Linked DNA regions of Homo sapiens: region 2 is linked to region 1. Evidence: fine-mapped expression QTL. A gene starts in region 1. The other region holds a variant in brackets. All regions are shown on one strand. Distances are between the middles of the regions. Region 1 holds the start of CMC1 (C-X9-C motif containing 1). Region 2 has its middle 10 kb from the start of EOMES.

Evidence for each region. PIP is the estimated chance that this variant, and not a neighbour inherited with it, causes the effect. A credible set is the group of variants that fine-mapping cannot tell apart.
Region 2: its variant is the best candidate, but not a certain one, in a credible set for the expression of CMC1 in whole blood (INTERVAL, PIP 0.59).

The regions. Positions count from the first base shown.
Region 1 is chr3:28,239,807-28,244,205 of GRCh38, reverse strand. It overlaps CMC1 (C-X9-C motif containing 1), which reads right to left and starts at 2,587. Exons shown (of 4, transcript NM_182523.2): 1 at 2,394-2,587. The coding sequence starts at 2,412. RefSeq lists a silencer at 2,295-2,374.
Region 2 is chr3:27,730,111-27,734,509 of GRCh38, reverse strand. No RefSeq gene overlaps it. Among named protein-coding and RNA genes, the nearest start is that of EOMES, 10 kb to the right of the region's middle. RefSeq lists an enhancer at 3,493-4,399. The variant AAT/T (reference allele first, on the strand shown) is at 1,948.

The DNA.
Region 1 (4,399 bases):
ACTGCCCTCTTTAAAAGATTCTAAAGGCATTTGATGCCATTAGAAAAAATCCAAATGCTTTATTATCACAGCCAGCCTTTGAGGACTTGCAGCCTCTGCAATATCTAGGCATTTAGTGACTACCTACTTTCCCAATATCTTTCCTTATGGATCCCCTCCACACTCTGACCCACGTTCAAGTTAAATATTTTAAGTATTTGCTACCTGATGGCCAAGCACACTCTGCCTAGCTTCCTCTCATCCCTCAGATTCCAATTCAAATGACACTTCCTCATAAAGCTCTTCACTGACTAATCTCTTCACCATCTACCACATGACATTATTTTCTTCATGTTTATCACAATCTGTAAAAATGTGTGTGTGTATGTGTGTGTGCCCACGCACGTGTCTGTGTAGGGGGAAAAGGGGGTGTTAATTGTTTTTTCTACCACTAGATAAGCTTTATTGGGAGCAGGAATTTTGTTTGTCCTATGTACTACTGTTCCCTAGGGTCCAGAACAATATGGGACATATACCAGACACTCAACAAGTCTTTGTTTAATCAATACTCAAAAGGTGGCATGGTCTACAGCACTGGACTGGAAATGAAATTACCTAGGTTCTAACCAGACTTGACTCTACCAGCAACTAGCTGTGTGGCCTTGGGTACAACACAAGATTGGAGTGGCTTATGAGTAACTGGAAGGTAAGCAAGTGAAGAGAGCAAGTATGAAGACTTTTTTCCCAAATTTCCTTGTCTAAATTCAAAAAGTGTAGATATATGGAAATCTTTAACCTCTCTCATTCTCAGTCTCCTCATCCGTATGAGATTACTTTAAAGGTCACTTCAAGTTCAGAAGTACCATAATTAGGCTGGGTGCGGTGGCTCACACCTGTAATCCCAGCACTTTGGGAGGCCAAGTCAGGCAGATCACTTGAGGTCAGGAGTTCCAGACCAGCATGGCGAACACGGCGAAACCTCATCTCTACTAAAAATACAAAAATTAGCCGGCCGTGGTGGCGGGCGCCCGTAATCCCAGCTACTCAGGAGGCTGCGGTGGGAGAATTGCTTGAACCCAGTAGGCGGAGGCTACAGTGAGCCGAGATAGCGCCACTGCACTCCAGCCTGGGCGACAGTGAGACTCCGTTTCAGTAAAATAAAAAAAAAAGATACCATAAATTATATGGGCCTAAACTTGAACCTTCCTTACTCACCCCTCACTTATACTCTACCCCTTCTACCCTCAAGAACCAAATCATGGTAGTCATCCTGAAACCAAGCATCGCACAGTGCACCTTACTATCTAAACCTTTGCTCATAGGGCTGCCTCTTCTCCAGCTCCAACCACTGGAAATTCCATCCCTCAAAGCCCAGATCAACTGCTAACTGCTTCATAACCACCTAGTCCAAAATGAATATGATCATTATGTTCCAGAACTCCTCTATGCTTCAAATTAGAGTACTCCCTGATCTACCACTACCTGCTGGACTAGTCACTTAACTTCTCTTCGCCTCAGTTTCCTAATCTGTAAAATGGAGCTAAAAGGACCTACCATACCACATATTATTGTTGGATAATAGAGAACACTTAGCATGGTAATAACATGTTCAATTAAAACATTATTTCTGTGCTACATATATTTTCCATGCTCCTTGAAGGCTCCGAAAGAGCATTTTCCATTTCTGAATCTCCCAAGTTTGACGCCATTTACCTCTCAATGTTTTGACTTTTTGTATCCATAAAATGAAAGAAATGGACTAGACCAACTACCATTCCCTCCAAAAATGTTATCTATTCCCTTGCAAAAATAGCCTAACGCAAAGATACTGCAGGTGACCTTCCACAAGGACGGGAATTCGAGGGTAAGTTAACTATTGCTGCAAACGGAAGTGGCTGGAAGCAAAGAGATTAAAACAACATTCAAGATTTTGAAGATCCTTTCCAAAGAAACTGACTCCTGCCATAGTGATGGATCCTTTGAAATATGTTTTTAAGTTGGGTTACAAGGATGAACTCGGGGTCCATGAACTCCCAAACAGAAATGTAAAACTGTGCGCCAGAACAAATATACAAATTTTTCTGGGGCCAGAGTGTCTGCAGCATACATTAAATGCATCTGTGACCTTAAGGGGCGAAAAGAGGGTGACAATGAAGAGACTAGTCGCGTTAAGTTGGAAACCACAATGGATGATACTTTAGACAACAAACGCAACCTCAGATAACCATAATCCCCAACAAGTGAGAAGATGACCTCAGACCGGGCGAAGCAGCCGCCGGGTATGAGGAGACGCTGGTGGAAGCAATGCTACCCAGAGCTCTGCACCTTTCCCAGGTCGGCATCCAGCCCGCATGGCCCGCGGCGTGAGACCCGGGGCGAGGCCCCTCGGCAAACCCCGCTTCCCGCCCCGGTACCTGCGGGGTCGAGCGCCATCTCGGCGGGCCGAGAAGAACGTAGCCGCTTGGCGGCTCCGGGGCACGCAGGAAGGGGAGTGGAGGGGAGGGGCTTGGGCTCGGACGCACGTGCGACCCCCGGGAGCTTCCCGCAACAGAAACACGGGCCCTTTGCAAAGCACCGCCAGGACCCGTTCCCTCTTCCTTCCCAGGCTCCTACTTCCGCCGCCCGTTGCGCCTGCGCCTTTCTGGCCCCGCCCCAATCCTGTAACTAGAGTGGAACTGACTTCGCAGGGGGAATGACCAGGAAAGGGGGCGTGTCTGCGTGCCTTTGGGGCGGGACCGTGCAGGACGCGCGCAGCCTCGCTTCAGGAGGCTTGTGCACCAGTTGCAGACCCGGGTCGGCCGTGACTGGAGGCGGACCTGCAGGACTTTGGGACTGTGCCTCACTCGGTGACTGGGCCAAAGTCCGAGCCCCGTCCCCCATACCCGCCTTCGGAGAACCAAATGAATCATCCAGTTCCTTTTTTTTTCTTCGTTAACGTTCATTCATTCATAAATGTCTATTTCATGCCTGCCAAGTTCCAGCCACGGTTCTGAATACGAGGGGAAAATAACAATAAAAATAACGTCCCTGTTCTCAAGGAGCAGTGTGGCAGAGGAGACAAATAAAAGCAACACGCTGTTAAATGTGATAAACGCCACACGCACTAGTTGTTCACAGCTTGTTCTACCATAAAGGTGATATGGTGTGTGCAATATCGTTATTTCTCCTTCAAATCAAAGACTGTGGCTCTCCTAGACGTTAAAATATGGGCTCTAGAAGTACCTCTATGTTGTGAAATAATATCCTCAGGACGTACAGTATGATTTGGGTGATGTTACAAATCCTGCCTCTATCAGTAAAAGCTGTATGTTTTGTGAGAGTAAAATGAAGGAAGGTAATAGCCGTCCCGCTGAAGACCCACTACTCACCTCTTCTCAATAGAAGAAACTTTCTAGGTGGCACTTAGGTTCATTTCCACTCACAAACCAGCCTTCAGAAGTGCTTCCTTGTCAAATTCACGTTTAACTGGCTCGAGCCACGAAAGGGTGAGCTGAGGCCTGGGACAGATGGGACAGATGTTTAGAAAAACAAGGAGCAGCTGCTTCTTCCCTGCAAGGGATTCAGGGCTTTCAAAATGATCCCCTCCCCACCTACCTGCAGTCCCTCCTCCCCTGCTGCTGCTTCCGCCTGGTCAGTTGGCAGAAAAGCTGAGGCAGTTGAGCAGGGCTGGGAAAGTGGGTCTCTGCTCAGCAGGTCTTCCGTTTAAGGGCCTATTTGGGCATAACGGCCCTTATTACAGCTGTAGGTTGAGGTGCCAAGGTGAAGAATTAACGTTTCACTCACCCAGCCAGGGAATCAGGTCCTTTTCCTTGTATATTTTGTAAATATGCTTAGAAATACACCAAAATGACTCTGGTATGCCTCTTTTATTGTTCTGAAGGTGAAGGATTTGATTTAGAAAGCTAAAGCAATCTTTTTGAGGAGATGGAGTATGAAAACACAGGTCAGACACCCATATTCAAGAATTAAACTAAATCTTTCTATATGCAAAAGGGTATTATGGTAAAGGAGGAAAGTTTGATCTGTTATCTTAGTGAGTTGAGTAAGTTCTATTATTTTTCTGGACTTTGGTTTCCAATTTACAAGGTTGTTCTGAGGAATAAATGTGATATCATACAATGCATTTGAAAGACTTTAAAGGACCACTTCTACCATTTCTGCCATAGCTATTACTTGAAACATTACTATTTAACATTTGTTTTTAAATCAACACATTTTTAAAAACACTTAAATAGGCACTATTTACTTTAGCCTTATCCTAAGCAACAGTATCTGTAATATCATGGGTTTTGTGTGCCCCATAGAATGAACTGCTAGACGTATCACACCAGGAGAAGCACTAGCAAAAACGGTAGCCCAATACCTGATACATAATAGTATATCTCTCTCTACTCCCATGTTAAACCAGATACTTTGGGGG
Region 2 (4,399 bases), 510 kb after region 1:
AACCTAGGCAATTGCTTTAAAGTCATAAATTTAGAAGATGAAATGTAAGCAAGGGGCTTCCTCTGCATTCTCAATATTCCCTAATCCCTGTCTGCTTTGCCAACATGCTTCTCTGTGGGTGCTCAACAATTTGTGGAGGAAGTGTATTTATAAGTATTTAGTGTTGAACAGAAGAATACAGAAAGGTAAGTGTATGCTACAGCATAGCTTCTATCTTTCTATCTCCTTTTCATTTTTGCTGCTTTCTTTAACTTGATATCCCTTCCCTTAATACTCCATAAAATTATTACATTTAAATATTAAGAGTATAAGGTACCATCTTCAAATAGCCAAAAATTTTTAAATGTTACTAACTCTCTTAAAAAATATAGTCTGACCTCTGTGTCCCAGCAATCCCACTCCTGTGAGTACAGGCCTGACAGAAAGACTATACAGATATTCACCAAAGGACATGTACAAGAATGTTCATATCAGCCCTATATATAATAACCCAAAAACTAGAAACAACACAAATGTCTTCAACAGCAGAATGGAAAAATTATATATTTACACAATGAGATATGACACAGCAAGGAGATGGAACAAATGCACGTATGCAGTACAACATGAGTGAATCCCAAACACATGTTGAGTGAATGAAGCCACACACAAAGAAGAACACAGTATAAGATTCCATTTATATAAAACTCAAAAACAGGGAAAACTAATCAATGGTTACAAAAGTCAAAATGATGGTTACCTCATGGGAAGCAGTGAGCAGAAGGAAGAATGTGAAGCATCTGGAATTTGGGCAATAATGGATTTCTTAACATGGATGCTGGTTATACAAGTGTGTTCAATTTGGTAAAACATATCAAGTTGTGAATTTAGAATACTTGTACTTTTTTGTATGTATTTACTTTAGGTTTATTTTTTAAAGTTTACTTGAAAATTATGGCCTGAAAATATAGTTATCATCTCTTTCTTATTTTTAAGAAATAAGATGATAACTGTGTATTTTATCATCTCTTTCTTATTTTAATGGATAAGAATACTCTTGGCTATATAGTATTGTCTTACCACATGATTCCTTCTACTCCTAAAATATTATGAGACAGATCAAGCAGAGAAGCAGATCCCAACCTACAACTTAATTGAGTTCTCAAACCCTTTCTCTCACTTCTCACCCTGTACCCCTCCTTTCAACACTTCTGAGTCTCAGTTGGCTCATGTGGACAATTTTCTCAGGCTCCTATTGTAATTAAGCCCTCGGTGGGTTTATGCCCTATCTCTGCAACTTGGTAATGGTCTGACTTAAAGTAACTTAGCTTTCAATGTCTCAATTTTCTCACCTATAAATGTTGTTAATAAATAATTGTTCCTACCTCATATCATATCATAGTAAGGACTAAATGAACTAAAAGATGTAAAGCACTGAGAGTAGTGAGCTCATTGGACAACACTGACTTGCATTAATTCTATGACACATCTTTTAACTTCTTAGAAATAAGATACATTCTACAAGCAATGGTGTCTTACCACTACTGTTGATCAGATGGCAGTTCTGAAATAGCTGTCACTGCTTGTGAATACAGCTTTTATTGTCCATTTTATGTGTGCATGAGTGAAATACGAAAATAATACTTTCTCTAAATAAGCAATTATTGGCCGGGCATGGTGGCTCACACCTGTAATCCCAGCACTTTAGGAGGCTGAAGCAGGTGGATAACCTGAGGTCAGGAGTTCGAGACCACCCTGGCCAACATGGTGAAACTCCGTCTCTACTAAAAATACAAAAAAAAAAAAAAAAAAATTTACCAGGGCATCGTGGCATGCACCTGTAATCTCAGCTACTTGGGAGGCTGAGGCAGGAGAATCACTTGAACCTGAGAGGTGGAGGTTGGAGTGAGCCAAGATCTTGCACGCCAGCTTGGGCAACAGAACAAGATTCAATCTCAAAAAAAAAAA[AAT/T]TATTTCAATAAGCACAAAATTAAAATTCTAGGACACAGCTTTTGTTTTCTTTGTGGTGAACACATCAGTTAGGCATATCAATGGATGGCATCTTAGATTTGTTGAAATGTCCTCACGTAATACATCACGAAGTTGCTGTTAAAAGCTTTCTAGCATTATTCTATTTTTCATATATTTTTATGCATTATTTAGTTTTAAAATTGCATGTAAAAATCCATCATTTTAAGGTAGATATTTTTTAGTGTTGTTTAAAGCTTTCCTATGGAATTGGGCAATTGAGAGACTTCCCAGGGATGCAGTGAACTGTGACTAGATGCTCTGCATCACATATTTCCTTCTACTTGTCAAATGTCCTCTTTTTCCCTCCCCCACTGCCAATCCCAGAGCATCAGCAGACTCAGGGCTGGTCGCGGGGTGTTCCCACACGCCTTCTCCTGACTGCCACCTCCCTATTGCTGTCTCAGCTCAAATGTCAACTCTCCATAAAGAGCCTCCACCAACCCATAAGTTTGCTGCATATTGGAACCACCTGGGGATCATTAAGTAATCCTGATGCCTTGTCTCACCGCCAGAAATTCTGATTTAATTGTTCCGTGGTGCTACCTGGGCATTAGGATTTTTAAGAACTCTCCAGATTATTCTAATATGCAGCCAAGATTGGGAACCACCGCATTACCCCGTTTGACTGATACCTCGATATTCTGATACTCTCTTATTTGCTGACTTGATGTTGTCCGGATCCAACATCATCCACTTTTGTACCCCAGCACCTCGTGCAATGTCTGACACACATACTAGGTCAACAAGTGTTTTCTAATATTGTGGAATCAACTGAATTTTACAGTGCGACTTCTGAGAAATGTAAGGAACTTCAGCATCTTCCAAGAGTTGCCACTGGGGCCGAGGAGAATTCAGGAAGTGTTTCAGATGGGGTCGCTCCCTGGACCTTAGGTAACAAGCAATTCCTGGCCCACACCTGCCCAACCCTCTTCAGGCCCCAGCTGGCAAGCAGAGCGGGATGTTAATGGGGCTGACGGTTCCCTCTAGGTCCTCCGCTTTGATCTGACCTAAGGCAGCACTGGGACCATCTAGCAGATCGCTCCCTGGCCCAAGAGCTTCTGATCACAGGGCAGGGTATCAGTGCTTGTTTACCTGCTTTGGGGGTCTCAGAGGACAAACAATGAAGGAGTCTCAGTGAAAGGGAAACTCTCACAGCGGGGTTCCGCACACGCAGCGCAAGGGGACGCTGCGTCTTCTGCGGCGCAAATCTTTCGACCCTCTGCGCTCTGCCGGGGGGTGCGGGACAGCCGGCTGCTGACCGGGGAAAGGACTGCAGCTTGTGGGCGCAAGCAGCTGCAAGGAAAGGCCTCAAAGCATCAATATAATTTTTAAGCTATTTCCCGCCAGTTGTGAGCCCGGGATGTCAAGCTAGCAAAAACTCCGACGTCTCCAAGGAACTAACTTAAAGATATATTATAAGTGAAAAAAGCAAGGTGGTTAATAAAGTGTATAAAAGCGTGCAGATGGGTGGGGGACAGATAAAGAGAAATTCAGGTGCGCTTACGTACTTGCTGGTGCAAACATAACATTATAGCCCCAGAAATACACAGGAGAAACTAATAGTGATTGCCTTCACTTCGAGGAATTGGGAGGCGCAAGAGTTGGTAATCTGGTGGCTTTTGGGTTGCTGGGTATTTTTTTTTTAACTCATGCAAGTACGTTAAGTATATATTGATTTTATATTATATAATATATACTACATATAATGTATTGTTGATATATTCATACATGTATGTAAGTGTTATCAGTTGTTGCAGTCAAGATGTCTAAATTAACCTCTGCCCTGGACGATGACCTAAGGGTACGGAGAAACAGAGAAGACTCTCGGCGTCAAGGACCAAAGAGGGAGGGTGAGAGGAAATATGTGGGATCCCCTACCCCCGTATCTTTTCCCAGAAGCCAATCTGGAATGGATGTGTATTTGTAGGGGGCGGTGATAAGATAAACTGGGGCGCTCGAATACCTGAGTGCCATCCAGACTGCATTTGGAGATCTAAGCCGCCAAAGGCTGGGAGGTGGGGAGGAGGACAAAGGAGGGGGTGGGATTGCGAAACCATCGCCCTTATCCTTCTCTGCGTCGTAAGCGCCAGGAACCCAGCCCCTAAGGGAGCCTTCCCTGACTGCAGCGCCTGACGCCTGGGTTTGAGCCCCTACGTGGACTTTTTTTTTTCTTTTTCCCGGGCTGCGCGTACCAGGGCGTGGGTGGGAGCGATAGTGCATCACCGGGGGAGCATTCGCCACTCGCTCAGAGCCCTAAAAGACTCCTCTGAGGCGGAGTTGGCTGTCGTGCTGGCAAGTGCGCAGTCCCAGAGAGGAGTGTTTCGGGATTAGGGTGTCCGCCGAGGTCCCGCGCTCAGAGGAGGGAGAGACCAGAGGAGCCTTCTCGCTT